Linked DNA regions of Homo sapiens. The protein of the gene in region 2 interacts with the protein of the main gene of each other region in a pairwise test. Each region holds a gene or a part of one and is shown on either strand. Other genes may lie near its edges.

Region 1 (10,042 bases), on a different chromosome or scaffold from region 2:
CAGAAGAAAGTCAGAAAGAGAGGGGGGCATTTGAACTGGGCTCTGACAGATGAAGAGGAGTTCATTAGGCATCCCAAGGAGAAAAGGGTAGAGGCACCAGACTAGGTACTCAGCACAGATTCAGTACAACATAATGATGCAAAACAACAGAATTGGCAAAAGCCTTCACCTCTGAGCCTCAGTATCCTCATCTGTCAGGGGTGGAGAATCATCCCAAGCTGGCAGGGTCAGTGAGGATCCTGCAGATAAAGGGCCTGGCAGCTTCCAGCATAGGGTTGGCCACTAGTAGTGTTATCCTTGTTAGCATCAAAGCAAAAAGTGGAGCAGGAAGTTAGAGGGTACACCAAGCTGTGGGGTCCCTGGATTGGACAGTGTCCTTAGCAAAAATACTGCAGTACAGTGTGTGTGCACACATGTACACATGTGGTGTGAGATGCATTGTGATATCTGGTTATCTAGCATTTAAAAATAATTTGCTGGTGGTGCACGACTGTAGTCCCAGCTACTTGGGGGGCTGAGGTGGGAAGACTGTTTGATCCCAGGAGGTTGAGGTTGCAGTGAGCCGTGATCATACCACTGTACTCCAGCCTGGGTGATGGAACAAGACCCTGTCACAAAAAAAAAAAAAAAAGTAAATTTGCATTGAATACACTCGATCAGTTATCCATTTATTGGCATCATTCTTCCTTGCTTGCTTCCTGAATGGGAGAGAGAATATGGAAGATCCAGCAGGCCAGGCTGCATCCTCCTATAGTAACAGTTGGCCAGAGCTGAACTGTAGTTCCCCTCTCATCAGGGCATGGCCACACCAGTTGGCCTCAGTCCCCAGCACTCTCTCTTGTCTCTCCAACTTGAGGCTGAGTGTCAGGCACTGTCAAATTACTCCTGCCACCGCGGTGTCCTGCCCCTATAGGCCTGAGTAGGAGATCCCCGGGGTAGGGGGAAGGGCTTACAGGGAGGCCTCTGAATGCCCATGTGTCTTCATAGACGGCCCCCGACGGGTGGAAGAACTCGGTGCGGCACAACCTGTCTCTGAACAAGTGCTTCGAGAAGGTGGAGAACAAGATGAGCGGCTCCTCCCGCAAGGGCTGCCTGTGGGCTCTGAACCTGGCCCGCATCGACAAGATGGAGGAGGAGATGCACAAGTGGAAGAGGAAGGACCTGGCTGCCATCCACCGGAGTATGGCCAACCCTGGTGAGGGCCGGACAGCCCGCAGTGCGCGCACACACACACACACACACACACACACACACGGAAGAGGAAGGACCTGGCCGACATCCACCAGAGCATGGCCAACCCTGGTGAAGCCGATGCATACGCACGCGCACACACACAAATATGCGCACACACACAAATACACGCACACGCACACAGAAGAGGAAGGACCTGGCTGCCATCCACCGGAGCATGGGCAACCCCAGTGAGGCCCAGATGCACACATGCGCGCACACACACAAATGCACTCACACACCTGTGCACACAAATGCACGCACACACGCAGAAGAGGAAGGACCTGGCTGCCATCCACTGGAGCATGGCCAATCCCGGTGAGGCCCAGACAGCTTGCAGCACGCACACACACACAAATGCACACACAGACCAATACACACATGCGTGCACACACACACGCAGAAGAGGAAGGACCTGGCTGGCATCCACTGGAGCATGGCCAACCCCAGTGAGGCCCAGATAGCCCACAGCATGTGCGCACACACACAAATGCACACAAATGCACAAACACACACACACAGAAGAGGAAGGACCTGGCCGCCATCCACCGGAGCGTAGCCAACCCCGGTGAGGCCTGGATGCACACACACACATGTGCGCACACACACGTGGAAGAGGAAGGACCTAGCCACCATCTACTAGAGCATGGCCAACTCTGGTGAGGCCCGGACAGCCCACAGCGCGCACACACACACGCACGCACACACACGTGCGCACACACAAGTGGAAGAGGAAGGACCTGGCCACCATCCACCAGAGCATGGCCAAGAGGCCCGGGCAGCCCCTAGTGTGTGCGCACACGCACACATGCACGCACACATATGCATGCACACACACACCACGCGCCCCTCCTCCCAGCCCAGCCCCAGCTCTGCCTATGCCCTACCCAGTCTCCAACACTTCTCAGCCAGGATGATGGGAAGACAGGCGTCTGGCAAACCTCCCTCCCTCCTATGAAATAGGCCTCCCCCTCCCCAACCCTATCCAGTGGCAGGAGTAGTAGAGGGGCCTGATCAAAAACAGGAAAAGCTGTTGGATCTCACTTGTCATCCATAGTTTCTTGCCCAGAAATGCCAAACTACACAACCATGGGTTACACATTGCTTTCCTACCACATTGTCAGAGATGTTTAAAATAGTAACACTCAGTGTGGGCTAGGATGTGGAACAATAGAGAGCTTCGTATATAATGGATAGGAATTTAAGCTGTTAAACTTTTTGAGGGAAAGCTAATATATCAAACACCTGCAAATGGTACCCATGGATTGGTCCAATTATTCTACTTCTGATGATGTGTACTGTGAAGAGCAAAGATTTGAGCAGAAGGTTTGTGAACAAAGTTATCCATCACAAAATTATTTCTAAGAGTGAAACACAGAAAGCAGTCCAGACATCTCACAATAGGGGTTGGTTAAATAAATAGAATGGCATACCATGCAAGTATTAGAAATGAGAAATATTTTAAAATATTTTTGGAACATAAATAAATGTTAGGCCGGGTGCGGTGGCTCATGCCCATAATCCCAGCACTTTGGGAGGCCAAGGCGGGTGGATCACCTGAGGTCAGGAGTTCAAGACCAGCCTGGCCAACATGGTGAAACCCCATCTCTACTAAAAATACAAAAATTAGCCAGGCATGGTGGCAGGTGCCTGTAATCCCAGCTACTTAGGAGGCTGAGGCAGGAGAATCACTTGAACCCAGGAGGCGGAGGTTGCAGTGACCCGAGATCAAGCCACTGTACTCCAGCCTGGGTGACAGAGCAAGACTCCATCTCAAAAAAAAAAAAAAAAAAGTTCTCAAACAATAAGTGAAAAGGGGCAGGTTATAATCAATATCCACAGCAAGATCATATTTTAAAATACATATATATCCATATTCACTTCCCTCCCAAAAATGTATGTATCTGAGAGAGAGCGAGTGAGAGAATGAGAATAAATATGCTTGTGTGTTTGGGAAGAAATACACCAAAATCTTTACTGTGAATGGAGAGACCATTGATAACTTTTATATTTTTCACATATTTCTGTATTTTCCAAAACTTCTATCCTGTTCCTAATTAGAAAAAGGATTGCATCTGCTTTTAAAAAAAAAATTAATGGATTTGAGGAGGGGCCATCCAAGGGACATATGCATGGGGACTGTGACGTGGAGGCTAATTGTGCCCCAGCCTTCGGAGTATGGCCAGAGTCTGTTGGGTATCACCATGCGGTGTAGGAATGGGGCTAGCAGTGTGGCTTGGGGATGAACAACTCAAGGCAGGGAGAAGGGCTATAGCAGGAGCCAATGGTCCCTCAGTTGAGGGGGTATGACATCGCGCCCACCCCACCGAGAGCTCTGGGGTCTGGCTTGAGACCCAGGGCCAGTACTGACACATATTCGGAGTGAAGTCTTGGGCAAGTTATTTTGCCTTCTACATTCTAAGTGCTCTCATTTCTCAAATGGGTACAACCCAAATAGATCTGGGGACCCTACCAGTCTACTATCAACCCTGTGTTGCACTCAACAAGACATAGCCATTAATCAAAAATAATATGAGAGTAATTTGTCTTTACTTGTTTATATCCAAGAGTGTTAAGGATTTTTAACCCACAGCAACACTTCTTAATGTCTCTTTAGTAGCAGGGAGTGGCTAGGGCCCCTTGCATGTTAATACATTTTGTCCCAGTCTTATGGGATTTGTAATCGCGGCCTTACCTCCTTCTTGCAGGGCTGTTATGAGATTTAAGTGAAGCCCTAGGGTTACAGGGCTGTCCTGTAAGGCACTGTCCCGATGAAAGATGAAAGGGGCTAGTGTTATTATCTGATGACATTTTTTTTTTAAAGGCAGGGTCTTGCTCTATCACCCAGGCTGGAGTACAGTAGTGCAATCATGTCTTACTGCAGCCTCAACCTCCTGGGCTCAAGTGATCCCCCCACCTCAGCCTCCCAAGTAGCTGGTACTACAGGCACACACCACCAAGCCCAGCTCATATTTTTTATTTTTTGTAGAGATGGTAGCTCACTATGTTGTTCAGGCTAATCTTGAACTCTTGGCCTCAAGCTGTCCTCCTGCTTCAGCCTCCCAAAGCACTGGGATTGCATGAGCCCAGCCTTTGATGTCGTCTCTTATTCCTCAAAGATTCTGCACAGTCTGTGATTTTGTTACATTTCCACAACAACCGTGTGCAGAGGGTATGATGTTTTGCTAGATGGGCAGAGATGTTTAAAATAATAAAATATTGACACCCAGCATGGGCTAGGACGCAGAGAAGTATTTAATAGACACCTTCATTTACAATGGGTGGCAATGTAAGTTGTGAGATGAGATGATGCCTGTGTCATTTCATAGGTGAGGAGACAGAGGTTCTGAGTGTCCAAGAGGCTTGCTAAGGTCACACAGGTGGTGACACTGGAATTTGAACCCAGGCCTGGGCTGGGGCCCGGTAACTGCTGGGTGGGTTCTGAGTGACCTCTCCCACTTGCCTGCAGAGGAGTTGGACAAGCTGATCTCCGACCGGCCTGAAAGCTGCCGGCGCCCCGGCAAACCGGGGGAACCAGAGGCCCCCGTGCTGACTCACGCCACCACAGTGGCCGTGGCGCATGGCTGCCTGGCTGTCTCCCAGCTCCCACCCCAGCCACTGATGACCCTGTCCCTGCAGTCAGTCCCCCTGCACCACCAGGTCCAGCCCCAGGCACATCTTGCTCCAGACTCTCCAGCACCAGCCCAGACCCCGCCACTGCACGCCCTGCCGGACCTCAGCCCCAGCCCGCTCCCCCACCCCGCCATGGGAAGGGCTCCTGTAGACTTCATCAACATCAGCACCGACATGAACACTGAGGTGGATGCCCTCGACCCGAGCATCATGGACTTCGCTCTGCAGGGTGAGGCTGGAGGAATGGAGTGATGGGAATGGAATGGGGAGGGGAGAGGCCCGGGGGCCAAAGGGAGTGAGGGAGAGGACTGTACTGCCTGCATTTGCCCCACAGTCTTGTTCCCATAGCAACAACCTTTACAAGTTGAACATCCCTAATCCGGAAATCCAAAATGCTCCAAAATCCAAAAATTTTTGAGCTCCGACAAGACACTCAAATGTCATGCTCGTTGGAGCAGTTCAGATTTCAGATGTTTGGTTGGATTAGGGATGTTCAACCTGTTATAGCCAATGGCAGCCAACAGGGAATGAGCATTTGCTGTATACCGGGCCAAAGCATTCCATAGGCATCACCTGAGGTCACCACCATTCCACATCCCTGTTCTGCCAATGAGGAAACTGAGGCAGAGAGAAGTGAAGTCACTCACCCAAGGTCACCTGGCTAGTAAGTGGCAGAGTCCGGAGTTAAACCTCGGTCTGACCCCAAAGTTTTCATCAGTAACTGCTTCAACTCACATGTGCCAGCCCCATGCCAGGTCACACTCTGACCTGCTGCCTTGCCGCATGATCATCTCCAATAAATGGGACGTGATGAATGAACGAACAAGGGAATTTCAGGTTTCAGTGAAGGCTCAGACTTCATCCATTCACTAGCACAGGTGCAGCTCTTATGTTCCAGCCAAGGGTGGAGACAGCCTCTGCCCTGAGTTCTGTCTCTAGCGAGGGAAATGGACAAGTGGCAAGTCAGCTGCAGCTGTGAAGTGGGTATATTTGCACCTCCCTGCCTCTTTCCCCCTGGATTGTTGTGTAGTTCAACGTGCTGAAGAAAGAGAAACATTGTCTTGTCCCCCTGGCTTTGACCATAATGATACCATGAGAACTAAATGCTTTTCACAAGTCCTCTTGTTTAACCCGTGCCACAGCCTTAGGAGCTGGGTTCACTGATCATTTCCATCTTATTCTGAGGTTCTGAGATGGAAGTGACTTTCCCAAGGACATTCAGTGGGAAGGTGAGGGCCCGGGGCTGCTGCGACTCTGGCCCTTCCATGCTTTTTTTTTTTTTTTTTTTTTTTTGAGGTGGAGTCTCACTCTGTCACCCAGGCTGTAGCGCAGTGGCACAATCTCTGCTCACTGCAGCCTCCAACTCCTGGGTTCAAGTGATTCTTGTGCCTCAGCCTCCCAAGTAGCTGGGATTACAGGTGTGCGCTACCAGCCCAGGCTAATTTTTGTATTTTTAGTAGAGATGGGGTTTTGCCATGTTGGCCAGGCTGGCGTTGAACTCCTGGCCTCAAGTGATCCACCCACCTCGGCCTCCCAAAGTGCTGGGATTACAGGCTTGAGCCACCAGGCCCGGCCCCATGCCCTTTTTCTACAACACATGACTTAGACACCACACATGGTCTCTGCCTCTTCCCTAAGATGGGGGATTCGAACTCAGGTCATTTGATGGGAAGCCAGCTCACCCTAATGCTTTTGTCTTTGAAAGGGAACCTGTGGGAGGAGATGAAGGATGAGGGATTCAGCTTGGACACACTGGGCGCCTTTGCAGACTCCCCGCTTGGCTGTGACCTGGGGGCCTCAGGCCTAACCCCTGCCTCGGGTGGCAGCGACCAGTCCTTCCCAGACTTGCAGGTGACGGGTCTCTACACAGCGTACTCCACTCCGGACAGTGTGGCTGCATCGGGCACCAGCTCCTCCTCCCAGTACCTGGGTGCACAGGGGAACAAGCCTATAGCCCTGCTTTGAGCTGTCAGCCTCACCTGCCCTGGAACCCCGGCACCCGGCTTGGGCAGAGAACTGACTAGAACAGGGTGTTCCCAGAAGGCAGGTCCCTCATTGTCCCCGAAGCCTCTCCTGGACCTGTGGCGAAGTTGCCGGCTGGACAGGGAAGCGGTTCCCCTCAGCAGCCCCTCTCCTTCTCGTGCCTCCCCCTGGAGCTTCCGGAGCAGTTTCTGGGGGCTCTTCCAAGTCAGAAGAATGGAGGAAGGTGGACAAGCAACCCAGCATCCCCCGACCCCTTGACACTCCTCCGAGGCCTGAGCCGCAATGCCTGCCCGTGTTGAGTGAGACTTCTCCATCCTGGATCCTGGCTGCGTGACCTCAGTGACCTGCACCCCATTTTGGGACACCTTGGTGCATTAAGGAAACACCCTGGGGTGAAAGCCCTTGAATTCATCCTCATGGGAAATGGCTGAGTGGATCAAACCTCAGCCGCAGCCTCCGGGGGACAGGCCCAGGGCGGGAAATGGAGCCGGAGAAGCTTGAGCCTCTCTCTTGGACAGGACAAGCTGAACTCTGAAATGGGAGCCGGTCCAGGTGGCCTTCAGCCCCACCTTTCCGATAGTCTGTTAGAATTTTATTAGCGCAGATTCCTGGGCCATGCCGGGTACCGTGACCTTGTGTAAATTTATTTATATTTATTGTGGCCCATCCACCCCACTTCTGCAAACCCATCCCGAGGCCTCTGGAATGGGACTCCTTCTCCCTCCCTACCTCCCAGCCATCCTAACTCCTACAGGCCAGAGAATGACATCTCTAACTGGCTCATAATCCCTTGGCAGCCTGGGGCTACTTTTTAGAACCAGCAAGCACTGTTGATACTGTGAAACATCCCATTTTTTCCGTATTAGAGACCAGATATTTTTCTACCTGTTCATGATTCACATCTCTTCTTGCATGTACCTAAGAGGGGCGGTGCCATTGTTTGGGGGCTTGGGGGGCTTTCAAAGGGGAAAATGCGATGGGAGAGGGAGGAACTGGAGGGGGGTGCTTTTGTACTGGGATTTAAGACACCCCTGATGGAATGAAAGCCAACTGAACCACGTAAAGCTCGAACCACGTGGCAAGTGGTGGACAAAACTTCAACGCATGATATTTATTGGCACTTCCTCACCTCCCTTTGCCCTGCAGCTGTTTTTATGCTTCTTTTTCTCTCCTTGCTAATTACTGACTCCCCAAGTGGCAAGTTCCGCAGATAGCTGGGTTAGAAGAGAGACAGGGGAGTGAGCTAGTCAAATGTGAAAAATGCTCTCCCAGCAAAGCTGAGACAAAATTGGAGAAGCTGCAGCCTCACGCACCATCCCCCTCTTTCCACCAGATGGATGTTGACTTGGTGTCTGGGAGTTCCCGAACCCTAGAGCCAGGATGTTCTGTTTAATCAACAGCTCAGCCAGCTGCCTGGGAGTTTTGGCATTAAGCCCCGCCTTGAAGGGCGAGCTTTAAGTTTTTCCCAGTTCTGGAACTTTCTACCGAGTATCCACCACCCTTAGACACAATCCCAGTGCTACCCGTCTGACCTGCACTGCTCATCTGCTTTGTGTAACATGACCCCTGATAAGATGTTGAAACTGTTATTCACAAAGACTCCGTGTTTGGGCAACATCAAGACTGTAAGTGTAGAATTGAGCAACTGTCTTCTATCAATAAAGGCTGAATGGCAGCTCTGTGGCTCGTGAGAAGGTCAAAGGGAGATAAAGGATAATGACATCACTCACTCACCCCTTACAGGTGAGATCCCATTTATAGATGGGGAAATTGAGGCCCAGAGAGGTGACACCACTCAGAACCAGGCATTCTGACACCAAGTTCCCATCGCACCAGAAGCTGGGGGAAGTTTTTCATGAAGGTTACAATGAGCACCGCCTCCATTTACTGTCCCTGAGACCTGCTGCTTGACAGGCATCATTTCAGGCAGGGATCGTGAACGCCATTTACCACTCAGAGCAGAGGCTTGGAGAGGTAGGGTTGGCTGAGTGTGTGTCCTGGAGCTCAGTGGCACAGCTCAGGTGTGTACCTCATGTCAGAAAAGACAAGATGGAAAGAGACACACCCCTTCCAGCACCTGCTATATGCCAGGCCCTGCACTAGTCACTGCTGTAAATTAGCTCATTTGGTCCTCATAACAGCCCTAGGAAGCATGTCTGATTTGTTACTACACCCATTTCACAGATGAAGAAACTGAGGCTCAGGGGAATAAAGCAGGTGACTTGCTGTCCAAGATATAACAGGCAAAGGATGTGTTAATTAGGAGTCTAACTTTTTTTTATTTTTTGAGATGGAGTCTCGCTCTGTTGCCAGGCTGGAGTGCAGTGGTGCGATCTTGCCTCACTGCAACCTCTGCCTCCCAGGTTCAAGCGATTCTCCTGGCTCAGCCTCCCGAGTAGCTGGGACTACAGGCAACACCACCATGCCCAGCTAATTTTTGTATTTTTAGTAGAGACAGGGTTTCATCCTGTTGGCCAGGATGGTCTCGATCGCTTGACCTCGTGATGCGCCCGCCTCGGCCTCCCAAAGTGCTGGGATTACAGGCAGGAGTCTAACTCTTAGGCCCACCCAGGAAGTGGCCTGCAGCCTCAGGGGAGACCAGATTCGTGCACATGCAACGTTTCATGAGTGAGGAAGTTTGTCTGGGAGGATGGGCTATGGGTGGTGTCAGGAAGTGCTTGGTGGAGGCCAGGCATGGGGTAGGGAGAGGGTGCCTGCGGCAGCCTGGCTTTCTCTGCCCAGCACCTGTAACATCCTCTCTTGGCTTGGCTCCTAAATGACCCTGTGAACCCAGCCTGGCCAAAAAGAGCATTGCATCCCCCAGCCACCCTCTGAAATTGGCTGCAGTGGGGAACAAGTGACCTAGGCCATGGTGTTCACAGCCAATGAGCATACCCCAGGGACTTTGCAGGAGCTAGGGGACAGGGGCACCCTCCATATCCTGGAGTGCTCAGCTGGGAGAATGGAGCCCAGCCACTGGGTCACCACCAGGAAAGGGCTGGGAGCCACAGTTGAGTCTGACTTCTGTTCCTGGCCATGGGCAAGGGGGAGTCAGGTGTGCAGAGTCCAGGCAAAAATGCCAGGGTCACAAGCTCTAGGCAGAGCTCTGCTCACAGCCAGAGTGCCAGCTGGCCATGATGACACCAGAAGAAAGCATACAGGAGACATGGGGGGAATGAGACTCCTTCTGGGGTTG
Region 2 (10,042 bases):
GATTACAGGCGTGTACTACCACGCCCGGCTAATTTTTGTATTTTTAGTAGAGACGAGGTTTCACCATGTTGGCCAGGCTGGTCTCGAACTCCTGACCTCAGGTGATCTGCCCGCCTCAGCCTCCCAAAGTGCTGGGATTACAGGCGTGAGCCACCACGCCCAGCCTAGATGAGTTAGAATTCTTAAGATTTTGTTCAAAATAGAATCTAGCACCTGAATGAACATATTCTTTAAAATTCGCAGAGAGAGAATTTTCACATTCAGGCTTTCTCTGCTCCTGGATTTCTACCGTGGAATGAAATAAGCCATAAAGAAGACAGAAATACAAAGCGAATGGCACCGGCCACATGAAACAGGCTGGAGGCTCATCACAGTGTGCAGAGGTCCACTGTGGCCGTGTGACCACCTCGATCTGGAATCTAAAAGTTAGGAGCACAGCAAAAAGAAATGATTATGGTTTTAAAACACACAATTCAGGGCCAGGCATGGTGGCACATGCCTGTAATCCCAGCACTTTGGGAGGCCAAGGTGGGTGGATCACCTGAGGTCAGGAGTTTGAGACCAGTCTGAGTAACATGGTGAAACCCTGTGTCTACTAAATACAAAAAATAATAATAATAATAAATTAGCCGAGCATTGTGGCACATGCTTGTAATCCCAGCTACTCGGGAAGCTGAGGCAGGAGAATCGCTTGAACCCAGGAGGCAGAGGTTATAGTGAGCCGAGATCGTGCCATCGCACTTCAGCCTGGGCGACAAGAGCAAAAATCCGTCCCAAAAAACACAAAAAAACAAAAACAAAAAAACACAATTCCGCAAAAACAAAAAGGCAGACAGTGAAGCGGTTTATTTGATGTAGTGTGTATGGTCAGACATCTTTAGCTTTTATTTCTTGCACATATGGCAGTGGGGAGGGCGTCTTGGAAGCCCATCTGAGGTGAGGATCAGACGCCGTCGCCCTGCCAGCAGTTGTGGCCTAATTGATATGTTTCCGTGCCCACTTGAAATTGTCCAAGAGGAGTCAGCCCTCAGGTCTTCCTGCCAAGCCCCTCTCTCAGGCTCTCCCAGGCCTAGGTGGACTCTGCCTTCCTCTGCAGCAGCCACCATGGACAGGTCTCAGTGCCACTCACGGCCACCATGTGTGTCCCAGGTTTCATCACTGTGGTCCCTCTCTGAGGACTTGCCAGGACCCTGTGAATTCTCCAAGCACACGGCGCCCAGCTCACCTGGAATCAGAATGCCCTTGCGCTGGCATCCTTATTAGCACCATCTTCATCCTTAGCTCCACTCCTGCAACACAGGGGATGGCGTGTCCTCACCCATCACCCCTCGTGATGTATATATGGCAGTCACTGCTACCTGTGACATTCAGGGTTCATGCCGGGAAATCACAGCACTGCAGCCAATGACTCCGAAAGCCCCAGCTCTCAATAAACACACAAAACACTCCTGTTCCTCCCTCGACTCGAGTTCACTTTGACCCTTCCCATTTTGATAGCTTTGTGTGGCCAATCGGTACTCCCAGAAAAATAGCAAAGCCACACTGTGCAGATTTGACTTAGGAGGCTGGAGAGCAGTGGGGTCAGAGAGCGAGGGACCCAGACACAGGGCACCTGGACTCGAGTATTCTGTAGCCAGAGGCAGCACTTGAGCCCTCTGGCTTCATTAACCTCATCAGAAAATGGAAACAAGTCCGGGTTATACTGCAGAAGCGAGGGGCGCCACAGAGTGCTCTCCCACGCAGTGGTGCGGATGGCTATCCAGAGGGCCCCAGCAGTCCCCTCTGTACTAGGGACGATCAGTGTCACCTTGCTGCAGACTACAGACCCACAGAGGCAAAGCTGCCTGGGCGGGTGAAGGTGCATGTGCTTCCGTGTATGTGTGTGTGCATACGTGTGTGTGTGCCCACAATTCGTGCATATGTGTGGTGCATGGGCTGAGTGTATGTGCACACTTGTGTATGTATGTGCATTGTTTGTGTGCCTGCACGTACCTGCCGTGTGTCTGCCCAGGTCGGTGTGAGTGTGCAAGTCTGACCATCACCCCGCCGTCGCCTCTGATCAGTCCTGCCTATGTTTTAATAAAAAGCACATGAACAGACAAACAGCATCTTACATTCTGTGTGTATCCTCAGCACTGACCTCTGACAAGTCTAACTGGCCTTCTCTCCCTTCCCTTTTAGAGGGTGTTGGTCCAGGCAGCCAGCTCCAATCCCAAAGGGGCCCAGATGCAGCCGATCTCCCTCCCCAGAGTTCAGCAGGTACCCCAGCAGGTAATGACAAGCACCGCAGCACCGTGCAAACCGGGGCGCAGTTAGCACTCAGCAATCCAGAACAATCTCTGAAGGATGCATCCTTTTCTGTGGCTGCTGTTCCTTGTTGTAAGCTTCAGTTTCTTAGCCAAAAGACTTTTCCAGAAGCTGTGCAATTTTAAAAAAATCATTTACTGCAGATAGTTTTGCAGAAAGCCAAGAAAGCTGGTGATCTTTCGTTCATTCAGAAATTCAGCAAGCATTTGGGGAACCAGTGAGCACCCCGCACCTGCTGGGTGGAGCTCAGGTAGAAATGCAGACAGAAACAAAGGGCTCTGGACTGGAGGAACCATCTGCTAGTGAGTGCCATACCCTCAGATGCGGGCACAACAGAGGAAATGCTTCTTATGATTTCAATTATCTAAGAACAAAGTTTGAAAGCACGGCTGACCAGCCAAGTAGCAACACAGATCATCAGCTTGGGGACACTCTAGAAGCATGGTTAGCAAACTGTTTCCAGAAAAGGCCAAATTATACATTTTTGGGGGTTTGTGGTCCAGGCAGTCTCTGGAACAACCACTCAATTCTGCCATTGTATCGCAAAAGCAGCCATAAATGATATGCAACCAAATGGGTGTGGCTGTGTGCCAATAAAACTTTATTTACAAAAACAGGCAGTGGGCCAGATTTGGCCCTCAGGGCCGGAGTTTGCCAACTGTGCCCTGCAGAATCCTGAATTAAAGTTAACTCAGGCTCCTCCCTAAAAGGAGCCCTGAGGCCCTAGAGAATGCACCGCTCTTCAGGAGGGTCCTGCCTAGATTGGCAGTCTGTTCACAGGCATTTGTCAGGTGACTGTGTCCATGAGAACTAGGAAGGTTTGCAGGATCACAGGAAGGAAAAGGCTCCAGACAGGCCCAGCGGGGACGCAGGGCCTCAGGCCAGTGGCTCTGTCTTAGCTGCTGTCTGTCAAGGCACTCCCCAGAGACACCAAGGAGAGGAGATTCCAGAAGCTTCCACCACTTTTCTGGTGCTGGGCCTGCCCCAGCTCTTTCTGTAACTTCTGCATTTCACTTGGACCCCAGAATTCGACATTTGACTTCCACCCCTGGGGCATCACCCAACAGATGTTAACCCCTGGAACTTGTGATTCTGGGGGTGGTGCGTTGGACAAGTGCATACCATGCTCAGTGGTCCAAGGAGGGGCAGGTCAGCCCCATCCTGCAGCTTCAAGCACAAGAGGAAGGTCACCATGACACCATGACACCCGAACAAGCCCACTTCTGTGGCCCTCCATCTTCTCACCCCAAAATTCAGTGGATGTAGACAGCCACTAAGATGCCCTCTGGGGTGAGAGTTTGAAGTCCCATGTGCAAAGCGTTTGGCTTCCACTGCTCGGACTAGAGTCCCTCGGGGCCTGTCAGCCGAGGCTCTGAACTGATGTTTCAGAGAGGGGAGGGCAGGGCAGCGGGGGTGTGCTGGGGTCCCCCCATTGCCCCATCTCTCCAGGCATGCCGCTCCTTCCCACTCTGTTCAGACCATCACATTCTCTCCCCTCCTCTCTGCCAGGGAAGGGGCACCAGGGCCACCCACGGGGGGTGTTGGGGCCATGTAGAGTCTAATCTGCTCAGCCCCCTGTGCACTGCAGCCTGCACGCCAGCTTGAGCTACAGAGGGAGACCCTGTCGCAAAAAAACAAACAAACAAACAAAAAAAAAAAACAGAAACCAGGGACAGTCCTGTGAGCCAAGGCTGGGCCTCTGTCCACAACTCTAGTTTCCACTGCACTGGAGGAGCGTTGTCATTCTCCTGGTCCCGCCCCCACGTATACAGAGGAGCCAGGGCGCACAGACACGCTAGCAGAGCTCTGGGGATCAGTCGCAGCTCCCTGAACTGTGTGGGCCCGTTTGGAATATGTCGTCTGTACATTACTGTCTCCTCAGTGTCTTTCTAGGCGTGCCGACTGTGGGCGGGAACATTGTCATTTGGTACTAAATGTTCATAAAGGCAATAGAAGACACGTCTAGCTTGAATAATCTGCAGGCAACTCACGAGGGCGTGACTGGCGGTAACGCAGCGTATCCGATGTTTCAGGTGCAGCCGGTGCAGCACGTGTATCCTGCCCAGGTGCAGTACGTGGAAGGGGGAGACGCCGTCTACACCAATGGAGCCATGTGCGTGCTTCTCCCGCGGGCCACACCCGGAACCCTCTCCCTGACTCCAGCCTTTGCCACCTGGGGAGGCATCAAGCAAATTCCTCTCCCTTATGCTTTTGGCGATGTGTTCACTAAATACTGTTAAAATGCTATTAGGAAACTGGGCAATATCTCTACAAAAAATTTTAAAATTAGCCAGACATGGTGACAAGTGCCTAGAGTCCCTCCCAGGTAATCAGGAGGCCAAGGTGGGAGGATCGCATGAGCCCAGGAGTTGGAGGCTGCAGTGAGCTATGATCACGCCTGACTGATGGAGCAACACCCTGTCCAAAAAAAAAAGGAGCGGGGTGGGAGCTGAGGGATTAGGACATCATAACCCTGTGGAGATTTCAGAAATCACAGACTTTTGTACTTTTTACTTTTAGAAAAGATAGTCTTGGAAAAAAAAAAAAAAAGGCTAATCCTAACTCTTCATTCTGAAGTCTCAGTCTTTGAGATCCAGAAACCATCCACCCCTGTGTGTTTTCCCCTCGCCTCTGTTAAACTCCAGCTTTGTATAATGTTGATAGAACTTGATTTTCCATGTTGCAAGGATGTCTAGAGTTTTCTGCTCTGTAACTGTGTGATGCTTGGGGTAGGAAAGTATGCATCTCCCGTGCAGCTCACTTTACTTTAGACGTGAGTCCTTTCGCCTGCTTGTCTGTTTCCATTTGGCCTGGATGGCTCCCCTCACAAGTGCAGGGGCTGTACATGAGAACCTGGCTGTGACTTCAGGGTTGTGATTGGTGGAGTTGTATGATTCTAACCCCAGCCACTGTGGCGGTGCACACCCATCACCCCAGCTACTGTGGCGGTGCACACCCATATTCAGAGGCTGAAGCAGGAGGATCACTTGAGCTCAGGAGGCTGAGGCTGCAGTGAGCTATGATTTTGCCACTGCACTCAAGTCTGGGCTACAGAAGGAGACCCTGTCTCAAAAAAACAAAACAAAAAAACCCCTGGAAATTGACATTGGGGTAAAACTGTTAACTAGCCCACAGGCCTTATTCAGTTCTACCAGTCTGTATGCACGTGCTTTTGCGTGTGTGCTTGCATGTGGAGTACATGTGGCTTTGCATGTTCATGTGTGTACCCTTGCATGTGCGTGCGTGTCTATTTCTTTGCATTTTTAGCCCATGTGTAGATTTGTGTAACAATACCACCATCAAGATACAGAACTGCTCCATCTCCACACAGGAGCTCCCTCATGTGACCCATTTATCCACTTACAATTTTAAGTTTTATTTGTATTTATTTTTTTTAAGAGATAGGGTCTTGCTCTGTTGCCCAGGCTAAAGTGCAATGGTGCAGTCACAGCTCACTGTAACCTCAAAGTCCTGGGCTCAAGCAGTCCTCCCACCTCAGCCTCCTGAGTAGCTGGGACTACCGGCACGCACCACCACACCTGGCTAAATCTTTTATTTTTTGTAGAGATGGTTCTCTCTATGTTGCCCAGGCTGGTCTCAAACTTCTGACCTCAAGCAATTTTCCCACCTTAGCCTCCCAAAGTGCTGGGATTACAGGCGTGAGCCACCACGCCTGGCCTAGAATTTTTAAGTGGTCACTTTTTGATAAGTCAGCCTGTGGTCCTAAAGATTTTGCAACATGGTGGCTGTGAACTTGCGCTGCATTTGAGTGTCATATGCCACGTCCGAATTGCTCCATATGTCTGGCCTCTCTGGGTTGCAGCTTTTACGTGATGTTTGGCTGGATATCTGTGAACTCAGACAAGGCATTTAAATGGGACAGCGTCCCATGCGTGACTTCTCTCTTTCTAACAGACGAACAGCCTACACCTACAACCCCGAGCCTCAGATGTACGCCCCCAGCAGCACGGCTTCTTACTTCGAGGCCCCAGGCGGTGCCCAGGTGACCGTGGCAGCCTCGTCCCCGCCAGCGGTCCCCTCCCACAGCATGGTGGGCATCACCATGGATGTCGGGGGGAGCCCCATCGTCTCCAGCGCGGGAGCCTATCTCATCCACGGGGGGATGGACAGCACCAGACACTCCCTGGCCCACACCTCCCGCTCATCGCCCGCCACGGTATGTAGGAGGCTCTTGGGACCAGCAGGGTAGGCCATGAGTATTCTCGAAGCAGCGGCAGCAGGGATGGTGAGTAAGAGGCAGCCGGAGGCCCGGAGGGGCTGTCGTCTGCTCTGGGCCCAGGCGGCCCCACGATGGAGTCGGGCCAGCCTCAGACGGGCCACGCAACCATAGGCAGGCCTGCAGAGTTCTTTGAACTTCAGTTGGCCATTGGTATAAAGAGGAGGACAAGCCATGCGTCATGGGCTGTTGTGAAAAGGGAATGAGTCAAGCATCTCTCCACTGGTGGATGCTGCAGCCTCCTTTGCTCTTATTATTGTTATCGTTGTTACTATCAAGCTTTTAGAGGCGTGGATCAATCCATCCATGAGACACCTGGACTGAATCAAGCAGGGGAAGTTTCCCTGCAGCCTCTGCCGAGTTCTCGCTGCCATGCCCCGATGCAAAATAACGACTTATCTGCTTTTCCAGAGTCTCTACATTTAAAACTCGATTACCCGTGTTTACTTTTCATTTATTTTCCTTCTTAAATTAACACAAAGTAAAATCAACTTTTTGGTGTACAGCCTTGTGAGTTTTGACATGGGTAGATTTGTGTATAATCAGGTCACAGAACAGTGCATTGCCCTGAAAACCCCCTCGTGGTATTTCTTGGCAGTCACAACCTCCCCCATCCCCAGCCCTTGGCAACTGCTGATCTGTTCCCTATTGCTGTAGTTTCATCTTTACTAGCGTGGTGTATAAATGGAATCGTACAGATTGTGACCTTTTCAGACAGGCTTCTTTTACTCATTCTGGTGCCTTTGAGATTCAGTCAAGTTGCTGCATGAATCCGAGTTGCTTTTTTTTGTTACTGAGTAATATTCTATTACACTACAGTTTGTTTATTCATTCACTAGTTGAGGGCCATTTGGATGGTTTCCAGTTTGGGGTGATTATGAATAAAGAAGCTCTAAGTTTCACATGCAGGCTTTTGTAAGGACATATGTTTTCTTTCTTTTGGATATATACCTACAAGTGGAATTGCTGCTGGCTCATACAGAAAGTGTATGTTTAACTTTATCAGAAACCACCAGTTTCCCAAGTGGTTGCACCATTTTGCATTCCCACCAGCAACATACAAGAGTTCCTCTTGCTCCTCTCCGTCAGCAGCATTTGATGCTGCTGGTGCTCTTGGTTTTGGCCATTCTAATAGATGTGTGGTGGTACCTCATTGTGGTTGCAACTTGCATTTTCTTTATAGCTAATGATGGTAGCAGCTTTTCATGTGAGTGTAGATGCTCTGGTCAGGTGTCACTTCAAGTCATTTGCTTCTTTTTTAACTAGGTTGGTTGTTTTCTTATGGTTGAGTTTTGAGAATTCTTTATGTATTCTGGATACAAGTCTCCTGTCAGATATGTGACTTGCAAATATTTTCCCCAGTCTTTAGTGTGTCTTTTCATTCTCTAAAAAGTGTCCTTTGCAGAGAAAAAAAAAATTTTAATTTTGATGAAATCCAACTTATCAATTTTTCTTCTGTGGCTCATGCTTTCAATGTCATGTCTAAGAACTCTTTGCCTATTTGCACATTATGAAGATTTTCTCCTGTTTTCTTTGAAAAGTTTTATAGTTTTACTTTTGTTTTGGGTTTTTTTTTTTTTTTTTTTTTTTTCTGAGACGGAGTCTTGCTCTGTGACTCAGGCTGGAGTGCAGTGGCACCATCTTGGCTCACTGCAACCTCCACCTCCCGGGTTCAAGCGATTCTCCTGCCTCAGCCTCCCGAGTAGCTGGAATTACAGGTGTGTACCACCACACCCGGCTAGTTTTTGTGTTTTCAGTACAGACAGGGTTTTACCATGTTGGCCAGGCTGGTCTCGAATGCCTGACCTCAAGTGATCTGCTCACCTCGGCCTCCCAAAGTGCTGGGATTACAGGCGTGAGCCACCGCGCCTGACCATAGTTTTACATTTTACATTTAGATCTGCTTCCTATCAAGTTAACATTTGTATAATGTAAGGTTTAAGTTGAGGTTCATTTTTTTTTGCTTATGAAACAATGTGTTGTTCTAGCCTCATTTGTTAAAAAGACTACCCTTTCTCCATTGGATTGCTTTAACACCTTTGTCAAAAATCAGTTGGCCATATGTGTGTGGGTTTATTTCAGAGTGTCCTATTCCATCCCATTGGTCTGTCTGCCTATCCCTTTACAAGTAGCATAGTCTTAATTACTATAGCTTTATAGTAAGTCTAAAATTGAAGAGGATGGTTCCTCCCACTTTATTCTTCAGTATTGCGTTGACTATTTATATAAACTCAAAGTTTCTGTATAAGTTTAGATCAATTTATCTATATCTACAAAGAAATGCTACTGAGATTTTGACTAATTTGCACTGAACCAACTTGGGGAGAATTCCCATCTTTACTATGTTAAGGCTTCCAATCCATGAACATGGTACGTTTTCTCCATTTGTTTAGATCTTCTTTCATCAGCATTTTGTAACTTATACAAAATTCTGTACATGTTTTGTTAGATTTATATCAAAGTATTTCATGTTTGGAGAGCTATTGTAAATGGCATTGTGGGTTTTCTTGGCATTGATCTTTAAATTTCTGTTTCCAACTGTTCATTTCTAGGATTTAAAAAATGGTTGATTTTTGGCTCTTTATCTTGTATCCTGTAATCTTGCTGAACTCACTTTTTTTTTTTTTTTTCTTTTTGAGACAGAGTCTCTCTCTGTCGCCCAGGCTGGAGTGCAGTGGCGCAATCTGGGCTCACTGCAAGCTCCGCCTCCCAGGTTCACATCATTCTCCTGCCTCAGCCTCCCGAGTAGCTGGGACTACAGGTGTCTGCCACCACTCCCGGCTAATTTTTTGTATTTTTAGTAGAGACGGAGTTTCACCATGTTAACCAGGATGGTCTCCATCTCCTGACCTCGTGATCTGCCTGCCTCGGCCTCCCAAAGTGCTGGGATTACAGGTGTGAGCCACCCTTCCCAGCCTGAACTCATTTTTTGGTTCTAGGAGCTTCTTGTTGCCTGCAAATATAACTGCTTTATTTCTTTCTTTCCAATATGGACAAAAAGAAATTTCATTTCTTTTTCTTGCCTTTTTGCACTGGCTAGCACTTGCAGTGAAATGTTGAACAGGGGTGGCAAGAATGGACATCCTTGCCTTTTTCCCAGTCTTAAGGGAAAAGCCGTCAGTCTGTCACTGCTAAGTATGTGATGTTAGCTGTGGGTTTTTCACAGATGCCCTTTTTCAGGTTGAGGAAGTTCCCTTCTTTTTCTAGTTTTCTGGAAGTCTCTATGATAAATAGATGTTGAATTCTGTCAAACGTTTTTTTACATATGTAAGCATCAGCATATTTTTGTCTTCATTGGGGTGTTAATATAATGAATTGCATTGATTGACTTTCAATTACACAATAACTTCTTATTTTGGTGTAAGGCTCATCTCCTGAGATAGAAGGTGGTGGTTTAGCCTTGTCTCTGTGTTTTTGTTTGTTTGTTTTTGGTTCTGGTGTGTTCTGGGGTCACCCTGGCATCAGAGAGGCCCCATGAATCTTGCTGTCCTCTCTCTT
Region 3 (10,590 bases), on a different chromosome or scaffold from region 2:
TACTGTGAGAATGAGGCTGAGGAGGGAGCAGCAGCAGGGCTTTGCCGTGGGCCCCTCAGGGTCCTTGCCAGGGGAAGGTGCCCCCCGCTTGCTGCCGGATCTCCCTCACCACAGAGCATACCAAGAGGCCAGGAGAGCAGACTTCAGATCTGATTCTTGAGTCTTCCACAAGTAACCGATGTTCTGCCCTGGCTAAGGCTTCTATAGAATAGAAGGTTGGAGTTTGTAGCAAGGACTTCTGTGAATTCAGAGTCAGGACAGCTCTCTGGGCAGCCTCTCCGGCCCAGCATTCCATGGCTTGCTGGTGGTGGCGGCGGCGGTGGTGGTGGTGGTGCTGCTGTTTTTATTTGTGCATGCATGTGTGTCTTCTCTCTTGTTTACCATTTGCTTTTGGTCTTTCCTACTGAACAGCCGCAGCTCCGGAGTCCTGCCCCATAAACATTGAGGAATAGGTATGAGATCTACCAAATTATATAAATGAACAAACAGCTCATTTTATTTTGGGTTCTTCACTTTAAAGGCAATATTAATATTGCCTTATATTTATCCTGCCACACTTAGACACATAGTGCCACCATTAGAGGTGAAAAAAAACACCTTGACTCATGTCCCAGGCTCCAGTACCCACCCCCAGGGAGTAAAGATCCCAAATTCAGTTTGGATATGAGAGAGAGATCCAAGACTCTCCTGTTCTCACTGTTCCCCTGGGGTCAAGCACCAGAGACTGTTACTAGAGCCTGAGGTGGATTAGCACACCAAGGCATTGATGGAAATAAGCCATTTATACCTGTTGACTCTACATGCCATTAAAGGGTTTCATGTCCTGGGCTGGCCTGAGGCTGACCCTGGACACTTGTGAGTGGCCTCTCTCAACCTCACGGCCACACTCTACAGTTGGTCGGCCTTGTCCGCTGAACAGGTCCTCCTATGGGTCAGGTGTTGTGCTGGGCTCTGGACTGCAACAGTGAAGAAGTCACGGCCCCTGCCCAGGAGGAGCTTTGTCCCATGGAGGAGCTCCAGGACCTAGCGGTTTCTGCCATGTGACGTGTGCGTGGAGCAGTAGTTCAGGCTGCAGGGAGCACTTAGGAGCACACTGGGCCTCCCCCGGCCAGAGATGCCTCGTGAGGGGAGGCCACTGGGAGACACGGCTGGGGAGGCCCACAGGGTCCGGAGGACGACATGCCTTCCCTACCCCAGGGAGCCAGGGGACCCTGAGAGTGGAGGCAGCCGAGGCCCAAGGCAGGAGCGCCCTAGCCTCACTGGAGGGAGGGCACTGGAGGGAGGAGCTCATCTGTGGGCAGGAGATGAAGAGGACTCCCAGGGGAGAGGCGAGATGGCCTGGAGGAGCCTGAGCACAGGCTATTCTAGGAGTCAGATACTCACCAACGCTCGCATTCTCTCATCTAGTCCTCACAGCAAGCCCGTGAGGTCAGTACGCATGTCCCATCTGATGGGTGAGAAAACCAAGGCCCACAGTAAACTGATGTGCCCAAGGTCACACTGCTGTAAACTGGGAGTGGAGCCCAGGTTAGCGTGACTACAGATGGAGTCACAACACGGCCAGGAAGTGAGCCCACAGGAGGCTGTGGAGGATTGGATCCACAGCACAAGGGAAAGAGAAGCACCAAGAATGGGTTTCCAGACAGGCGCTGGCACTCCTCATGTGGGGGCAGCAGCAGATTTGGGGAGCGGATGCGTTTAGTGATGGTATCTGTGGGACCCCGAGGCTCTTGGGCTGGTGTCTGCTGGGCTGATGGCACCAGCTAGTAGCAAACCTCAACAGCTGCGTAGGTGCAGGAGGAGAGGAAAACGGCAGGTGACGGGGACTGGAGCCTCACACTGTCCTCCCTCCAGGCAGCCTTCCATCCCAGGAACCCTGCTGGGTGGCCAGTCCTTTCCTGCCCCGCCTGGGCCCCCACAGAAAACATTAACACTCGGCCAGAACGAACAGTCTTCTCACTTCCCCCCACCTCTTCCTGCCCCAATGAAAATAGCTCAGCAAGGCCCAATTTCCTTTTCCTGTCTATTGTAACATATAGGCAAACTTTAAAACCAAGTAATTAAAATACAAAAGTGGATCCCAGGGTAAGTTCGCAAAACAAGGAACATCTTTCATGTCCCTCCCTGTCCGGGAGCCACAGTGGCAGTGACTGTACCTAGCCCAGGGGGCAGGAGCAGGCTCTGCACCTGTCAGCACCTGCTTCTCTCCGTTCTCACACACGAGTGCTGTGGCTCGCACCGTCATCGGAGTCTCAGGTGACACGCATCCTGCTCCTTCCGTGCCGGCTCCTGGGCTGCCCTGCTGGAGACACCATCTGGATTTGGCCAAAGGTCTGGCTCCTGTAATGTTCATTTTCTCTTCCCCAGGTGCCTGGCAGGCTGATGACAATGCCGTCAGTCGGAATGCCCAGCGCCGGCGCTTGTCATCCAGCAGCCTGGAGGACTCTGAGACGAGGCCCTGTGTGTGGGGCCCTTTGGCTGTCTGAGCCCCAGCCTCTGCACTTGGGCTCCCCTCCTGCCCTGCATTCCATCCATCCTCACTCAGCTGCTGCCTACTGGGCATCCTCAGCAAGATGCTGGAGACTTTTTACCCTCCTGTGACAGCTGTTACAACCTGTAACCACAATCCCTCACCTCTCAGAGGGAACTGGAACCCTCCTTTCTCCGTGTGACCTAAAGCCACTCAATGAACTGCAGCTCACGAGACCTTTTGCAGGGACTCTGGAATGTCCTCACGGTATATTGATGTTCAGGTGGAGCTGGGGTCCATGGGCTAATTTCTTACACATCTTTTTTCTCCTTAGGGGGTAGAACAAGAAGGCTTAGAGTTTGGCAGCTTTGTTACAAACATCCCTCTGGCATTTCCTGGTCTCTGGCACATCATAACCAATTGGAAACCTGCAGTTTGGGGTAGGGCTGGAGGATCGCTCCTGTGGAAAGGGAGAGCCATACTGCACGGACGTAGCGTTTCCCTCTACAAGCACTAGGAGCACCTTTCTCAAGGACAAGAAATGGTAGCAACCAAAAGGTTGGTTGAAGGAAACAATCCTTCCTTCTGGTGGCAGAGCCAGTCTTCTGGGCCTCACATGCCTGTGCGGTTAAGAAGGAGCTCTTGGCCGGGCGCGGTGGCTCACGCCTGTAATCCCAGCACTTTGGGAGGCCGAGGCGGGTGGATCATGAGATCAGGAGATCGAGACCATCCTGGCTAACACGGCGAAACCCCGTCTCTACTAAAAATACAAAAAATTAGCTGGGCATGGTTGCAGGCGCCTGTAGTCCCAGCTACTTGGGAGGCTGAGGCAGGAGAATGGCCTGAACCCGGGAGGCGGAGCTTGCAGTGAGCCGAGATCGCGCCAATGCACTCCAGCCTGGGCGACAGAGAAAAAAAAAAAAAAAGAAGGAGCCCTTGAATCTGAGAATCCCCCAGTTAAGATGATTTCCCTTAAGGAGCATTTCTCCTGATCAGGTGCATTCAGGGAGGCCTGCAACTCCATCCTAAGGTGACATTTCAAGAAACACATGTGTTGACCACCTCTGTGTGCCAAGCACTGGGTGAGGAGTGGTCGTATATTACCATAATTCATCCTCACTCAATTGGGAGGTGGCATTCTTGTCCCTGTTGCCCCCATCTCTACCCCCTTTTGTTAATGGTTGAGAGAAATGTGGACCAGTGATTCTCAGTTTGGTGCCCAGGTCCCCAAAGGAAGTGATGGAGAGCCTTGAGCTAAGTTCAGGCAGCAGCATGTGGCCAGCAGCAGTGTGCTGGGAGCAGAGGTTGGAATCAGGGCTCAGGGCCTTCACTTCAAGGGCCCTCCCCAGCTACTCGGGAGGCTGAGGCAGGAGAATCGCTTGAACTCAGGAGGTGGAGGTTGCGGTGAGCCAAGATCGTGCCACTGCACTCCAGCCTGGGCTACAAGATTGAAAAGATCGAAACTCTGTCTCAAACAAAAAAAAAAAAATTCAAGGCTGTTTCCAAGGCAGCCTCAAAAAGAGCCTGGTGCCCAGGGGGTCCTTCGTTTCTGTGTGGCTGCAGAGGCCAGGAGTGCAGTGACTGTCTCACTGCCTAGTGGTTGTGGCTCACATCCTGCCCTGATGGAGAGGGGGGCCTGTCGTCCAACCCTCTCTGAAAAACTGCAGTAGACTTTACCATTTCAGGCCCCACCTAATGTTCTTTCCTTCCTTCCCCCTACATTCTTCCCGCCCCTTTCATAGTTAAGATGCATAAGCTGAGCAATAACCCCACTTCCTGATTTCCCTGAAATATGAGCCCAGAAGCAGCAGGTGACAGGGAGCTTCCCTTACCCTGGGGTGGTGGCACACAGACCACCTCCTGTCCTGTCCCCTGCAGGTAGTATTCACAGTGTGGTGTTACCTGGGAGGAGGGAGGAAGGAGCTGAGATGAAGGAGATTCAGGTAAACAGTAGCCACAGTGGCCAGGACCCCCTTCCTGAGGATCCCTGTCCTTCCTCGCAGCAGGTGCTTAGTCCTCTCCTAGGGAGAAGCACGGAAAGATTCCTCAAGGCCTCAGTCCCATGTCCAAGGCATACCTAGGTTAGAAATGTCCTTTACTTGTTTCTCAGTTACTATTTCTCCTCTTCCTCCCTCCCCCTGCCTTCTCTTGGCTGTCATTTAGCTCTCTGGCCCACAGAAATACTCCATCCAAGGAGCTGGTCCTCAGTCAGCCTGATGAGGACAGGTCAGTGGCCAACCCTTTTGCCCCAGTCCTTCATCTGGAGACAGTCACATAGTCACGTCAACAGTTCACCCAAAGAGAAGAGGTGGGGCCTGGCTTCTCCCACAGGGCACAGCCTAACTATGGAGACCCAGGGCTCCTTCCTGCTGCACTAGGCCTGTGCTCTCCCTATTGCCTTCAGGTGGTGTGATCCCGGCTTCCTCACAGAGCCCTTTTTTCCTTCTGCCCAGCTCCATCCCACCAGAGTTTCTACCCCCGCTGAGGCATCTCCTGGGCACAGACCACCACACTCTAAGCCGGCTGGCCTGGGAGTTAGGGTCCTGCCCACCTCACCTGGGAGTTGGGGTCCTGCCCACCTGGAGTTTAGCACGCTGGTCGCTCACTTTGCTTTGGTCTGCACACCTGGTGTGTGCATGTGTATACTGCTTGTGCCATCTGTGTACCCCTCTCCCTGGAGTACACTTGTGGTCACACTACAGTGGGGACATCAAGAATGCAATATTTATGGATTGCTGCATGATTCTTAAAAATGAATAAAACTGTTTACAAGGGAAGGAGAGCTAACTGCAAAGTGAGCTTATCTGTGAAAGTTTCTGTCTGACTTTCGCCAGCACTCTTTAATACTTTTACTCAAGAGGATCTGGAGTTGGAGGAGTGGGAGAGGCAAGGGCTAGGGAAAGGCATGTTGGCGGGGGAGTGATGCGCCATAGCCGGGCCTTCTTCATGGTCTGGGCACCAGCCTCCCCGACCCCGGCTCTCCAGCTCCTGGGCAGAGGCGGGGTAATCAACCCAGCCCCCACCACTGCCTCTGCAGCCGCCTTAAACCGGAGAACGTCCAACCCTGCAGCTCCTCAATAATTAAAGAGCAGGAAAGCTGGTGACAGGAGGGAGGCCAGGGGAAGGGAGGAGGAAGGGACACAGTCCCCAGAGTCCCTCTACTCTTAATCCCTGTGACTTAAAGGTTGGTGAAATTAATTGGGCAAATGACCCCGCTAGGAGAATTTGACAAGTCCATGACTTCAGAGTTTTACCCACGGGCTCTGCTTCATCAGCTGTCTCCAGAGGAGTGAGTGCGCTTCTGCAGAAGCCTCTGGAATGTCAGCTTCCTGGAACCTCGAGGATACGGGTGGGGAAGGAGCTGCTTACTGGGACACACTGGATTACCCTACCCCCTTGGTGTGTCTGCCGCCTCTGTGGATGTAAGCGGCAGGTGGCATCGGAAAGTCAGACCTGCCTGGGACACCAGAGAAAGACCCTAAGAGTCGGGGGAGAGGGAAAGGCTGCAGAAACATGAGAAAGTGCCACTCGTAGCGGAGAGGAAAGAAAACCTCAAGGATACGGTTCCCGAGCCTGAGCCCGCTCCCAGCCTTAGCCCCCCAACCCCAGGCTCCGTCCCAGGAGCAGTCGACGCCTCAAAGCGTACGGGACAGGAAGGGGGTGGGGGCGAGAGTCTTGGTTCCCCAGAACGAACGGATCCATAGCGGTTCCCGGTGCCGCAGGCCGCGCGCTTCTCCGACCCCAGCGCGGGGCCCTCGGGCGGGAATGAGCCGAGCCGGGACTTAGCGGCGGGTAGGGGGTTGGGTGGCGCGGGAGAGGGCGGCAGAAGGAGGGAGTTCGAAGAGAGTTGCCGCCAGGGAGAGTGGCAAGTGCCCGCGGTCTCCTTGGAGACGTGCTGGCCAATGGCAGAGGCGGAAGCTGTTTATGGGGGCGGAGCGTCGCCATGGCAGCAGGAGAAGCCTTTGGAGCGGCTACTTAATGCCGGTCCCGGGGCCGCGGTAGCTCAGAGAAGCGCCGTCGGGCGGGGGGGCGGCAAGAGGCGCTGGCAGGGCCCCCGAGCTGGGGGCAGAGAGCCGCAGGGGGTGGGAGCAACTTCTTCCAGAACCTTCCTCTGGCCCGGGCTGCGCTCTGAGCCAGGTAAGGGATGGGGAGGGCTGCAGGCCAGGGGGAAGGGTGGGCAACGGTACCAACCCGCTCTCTCATTCGTCCTTAACGGAAGTGGTGGGCCCAGGGACTGACATCGGAGAAGTCTGGGGGAAACTCGCCTCCTGCCCCCCGTTACTGTTCCGTCCCCTTCCTTCCCAATGATCCCCTATCATAATATTCCTTTTCAAGGATCAGAGGACCTCCACCGCCCCCGCCCCGTCGTACCGCCCTCCCAAACTTCTCGCCCCACTTCCATTTGTTGCGAGGAGGAAGGGGGTCCTGATTTCCTGCTCTTCGGGAGAAAAGGATAGCCTCGGATGCCCCTACCCTCTTCATTTGGCTAATAAAACCTCGAAGAGGAAAGGAAGAGGGAGGCAGATCTGATGGGGGTGGGACCCCAGGGCCTTGCTTCTGTTTCCCATACCTCGGCACTAAAAGATCCTCCCCAGCTGCGGGGATGATGTTAGAGAGGGCGTCCCCGTACACACACTGTCCCCTCGGGGGTGGGGTAGTGCTCAGCTCCCACCGTGGTCCTCGCAGGCACCACATACTTATTCGGAGGAGGCGCCCCCGGGGTCGCGAGATGGAAGCGCGCGTCCGGGAGGCCGTGTAACGGGAGCTGCGGGACTCAGCGGGCCAGAGAGCGCGGCGGGCCACCCCCGGCTCAGCCCGTGGATGCTGACCGCCCCCTCGGAGAGTCCCCGCAGACATGGCGGAGAGCTGGCTGCGCCTCTCGGGAGCCGGGCCGGCGGAGGAGGCCGGGCCGGAGGGCGGCCTGGAGGAGCCCGACGCCCTGGATGACAGCCTGACCAGCCTGCAGTGGCTGCAGGAATTCTCCATTCTCAACGCCAAGGCCCCCGCCCTGCCCCCGGGGGGCACCGACCCCCACGGCTACCACCAGGTGCCAGGTTCAGCGGCGCCCGGGTCCCCCCTGGCGGCCGACCCCGCCTGCCTGGGGCAGCCACACACGCCGGGCAAGCCCACGTCGTCGTGCACGTCGCGGAGCGCGCCCCCGGGGCTGCAGGCCCCACCCCCCGACGACGTGGACTACGCCACCAATCCGCACGTGAAGCCTCCCTACTCGTATGCCACGCTCATCTGCATGGCCATGCAGGCCAGCAAGGCCACCAAGATCACCCTGTCGGCCATCTACAAGTGGATCACGGACAACTTCTGCTACTTCCGCCACGCAGATCCCACCTGGCAGGTAGAGGAGGCACGGGCGGCGGCCGCTCCCTCCCCATTCCCTCCTCGCTCCCCACGCTGCACTGGATTCATATCCCAAATCTGCAGGCCAAGTAGGCTCTGCGGTGCGGCCAGCGCCCCAGAAGGGAGCCCTGCAAAGGAGCCCAGTTCTTGCAACTGCCCCTCCTTTGACTTCCAGAGAGAGAGAGAGAGAGAAGGGAGAATGTCCAGAGGTGGAGGGCTTTAGGGGTGCAGAGGCTGAGATTCAAGGGGAAATAACCTGCCATTCATCCAGCAGGCCCAGGCCAAAGACCAGGGCTAGACTCTGCGTGGACAGAATCTCCTTGGGGAGAGCGATGAACTGAAGGCGCATTCTTGTCCCAAGTCCTAGAATTCCTAGACACTGCCCTGCCCCGGGATGGTTTGTCGGGGCCGGGAGTCAGAAACGGAAACTGGAACGTGGCCTCCCTGCCAGGCTCTACGTCCTGCCCTTTTGCAGTTGGCTTGGGGAGGGTGGAATGGAAGGGGTGCCTTAGCATGTGAGGGCCAGGTGTGTCCCAATGGAGGGTGGAGGGGGTAAGGGGCCTTCCTAAAGCTGCTGTCCCAGCCCCCCACCTCAACCTCTGCTCAGTTTCCTGCCTCCAACCCCCGCTGTCAGCCAACCTCCCTGGGGGGACAATTACCTGAGCCAGGTGCCTTCCACTGGGGCTCTGCCTACCACACTCACTTCGTGTTCCACGTCTCTGGAACCAGGCACTGAGCAGCCAAGGGGCCCAGGCCACCATGTAAACATCCCAGCCTTGCTGCCGGGCATTATCCACCCACCTGCCCTGCCGTCCCAGCCCAGGACCCCTGTCCCCCAGCAGGCTTTGGACAAGATTAAGCACCTAAGAATGGACAAGGCAGGAGGATGGTGGATTTGAGGCTGGGTAGGCAGTGCCCTAAGAGTCTTCAGCCATCACCATCAAGGGCTAGTTGGAGTCAGGGGCCCCCCAAGGACGCCCAGACTCTTCCCTGAAGCACCCAAAGCGGGCAGGCCACAGGACCGCAGTCCCAAGCCATTTCCAATGCCCCTGACCCTAGAGCAGGGTCATTTGCAGCTGCACCGAAAAAGCAGAGACCCTCAGCCCCACCCTACCCTAAGCCTGTGCAGCTGCGCTTCGAGAAACGGGCCCCAGGAATGAGTGCTATGCTCTTAGCTCTTGGCTGGGTAATAATCAACTGAGCCTGGAGTGGGGGGAGGGGGCCGTGGGGGGTGAAGGCCCAGGCCAGCAGCCGGCTCAACAAACAAGGAAAGTCATCAGATCCCCCACCTCTCATCCCTGCGCGCTCTCTCTCTCTCTCCCCCTTCCTCTCCACTCTCGGCTGCCCAGCCCCCTCCCTGGACCCACTCACTCACAGAGAGGGCCAGCCAGGCCCAGGCAAAGGGAGACGGTGGTCCAGGCCCTGGGGGAGCCGAGGGCTTTGGCCAGAGGCTGTCAGCGGCAGGGTGAGGGAGGGAGGGCAGGCGACGGGGGTGGCACCGAGAGCCACCCTGCGGCTCAGAGCTCGGATGACTGAGCAGGCAGATATCCCGGCAACAGGGAACAAAAGCCTCCGACAGCACTCCGGGCTCCCAGTGCCCTGTGGCTGGTGTCCCAGAGCTGCAGCCGCCTGGGCAGACCAGTGTGTCTGTCCCCCCCTCCTCTCCCCTGCCAGAGAAAAGATGGGGGGTGCGCAGCAGCGCCAGGTGCCATTTCATCTCCCCGTCCCCACTGACCTAGCGGTTCCTCTCTCTCTTGCTCTCTCCCTGCACCCAGAATTCAATCCGCCACAACCTGTCTCTGAACAAGTGCTTCATCAAAGTGCCTCGGGAGAAGGACGAACCAGGCAAGGGGGGCTTCTGGCGCATTGACCCCCAGTACGCGGAGCGGCTACTGAGCGGCGCTTTCAAGAAGCGGCGACTGCCCCCTGTCCACATCCACCCAGCCTTTGCCCGCCAGGCCGCGCAGGAGCCCAGCGCTGTCCCCCGGGCCGGGCCGCTGACGGTGAATACCGAGGCCCAGCAGCTGCTGCGGGAGTTCGAGGAGGCCACCGGGGAGGCGGGCTGGGGTGCAGGCGAGGGCAGGCTGGGGCATAAGCGCAAACAGCCGCTGCCCAAGCGGGTGGCCAAGGTCCCGCGGCCCCCCAGCACCCTGCTGCCCACCCCGGAGGAGCAGGGTGAGCTGGAACCCCTCAAAGGCAACTTTGACTGGGAGGCCATCTTCGACGCCGGCACTCTGGGCGGGGAGCTGGGTGCACTGGAGGCCCTGGAGCTGAGCCCGCCTCTGAGCCCCGCCTCACACGTGGACGTGGACCTCACCATCCACGGCCGCCACATCGACTGCCCTGCCACCTGGGGGCCTTCGGTGGAGCAGGCTGCCGACAGCCTGGACTTCGATGAGACCTTCCTGGCCACATCCTTCCTGCAGCACCCCTGGGACGAGAGCGGCAGTGGCTGCCTGCCCCCGGAGCCCCTCTTTGAGGCTGGGGATGCCACCCTGGCCTCCGACCTGCAGGACTGGGCCAGCGTGGGGGCCTTCTTGTAAGAGGCCAGGCCCTGCCCCACCTCTGGACAGTGCCCAAGTCAGGGTCCAGAACTGCCCCCCAACACAGGTCCACAGACACCCCACCACCTAGGCAGGGGCTGGGCCAGGGCTCCAAGGCTTGCCCCAGAGGCCACATGGCCACCAGCCCCAGCTGCCATCAGATTCAAGCCCAGGAGGCTGAAAACGAGGGCCCAGGACCAGAATCGCTGCCTCCTCTCCCCA

What was found.
Region 1: the proteins of RFX2 (region 2) and FOXN4 interact in binary tests that used the Homo sapiens proteins (3 or more experiments, as listed by UniProt).
Region 3: the proteins of RFX2 (region 2) and FOXJ1 interact in binary tests that used the Homo sapiens proteins (3 or more experiments, as listed by UniProt).

Annotation. Positions count from the first base shown.
Region 1 is NC_000012.12:109,276,457-109,286,498, reverse strand, and holds the end of FOXN4 (forkhead box protein N4), read left to right. Parts: intron 1-987; coding exon 988-1,195; intron 1,196-4,559; coding exon of another isoform or gene 4,560-4,600; exon of another isoform or gene 4,601-4,610; intron 4,611-4,699; coding exon 4,700-5,092; intron 5,093-6,568; coding exon 6,569-6,828; 3' UTR 6,829-8,521; downstream 8,522-10,042. UniProt on the Homo sapiens protein: Transcription factor essential for neural and some non-neural tissues development, such as retina and lung respectively. Binds to an 11-bp consensus sequence containing the invariant tetranucleotide 5'-ACGC-3'.
Region 2 is NC_000019.10:6,036,422-6,046,463, reverse strand, and holds part of RFX2 (DNA-binding protein RFX2), read left to right. Parts: intron 1-2,181; coding exon 2,182-2,271; intron 2,272-4,340; coding exon 4,341-4,420; intron 4,421-6,222; coding exon 6,223-6,484; intron 6,485-10,042. UniProt on the Homo sapiens protein: Transcription factor that acts as a key regulator of spermatogenesis. Acts by regulating expression of genes required for the haploid phase during spermiogenesis, such as genes required for cilium assembly and function.
Region 3 is NC_000017.11:76,137,131-76,147,720, reverse strand, and holds the start of FOXJ1 (forkhead box protein J1), read left to right. Parts: upstream 1-6,475; 5' UTR 6,476-6,607; exon of another isoform or gene 6,608-7,156; 5' UTR 7,157-7,325; coding exon 7,326-7,823; intron 7,824-9,600; coding exon 9,601-10,368; 3' UTR 10,369-10,590. Other genes in the region: E3 ubiquitin ligase RNF157, read left to right, coding at 2,368-2,486. UniProt on the Homo sapiens protein: Transcription factor specifically required for the formation of motile cilia. Acts by activating transcription of genes that mediate assembly of motile cilia, such as CFAP157.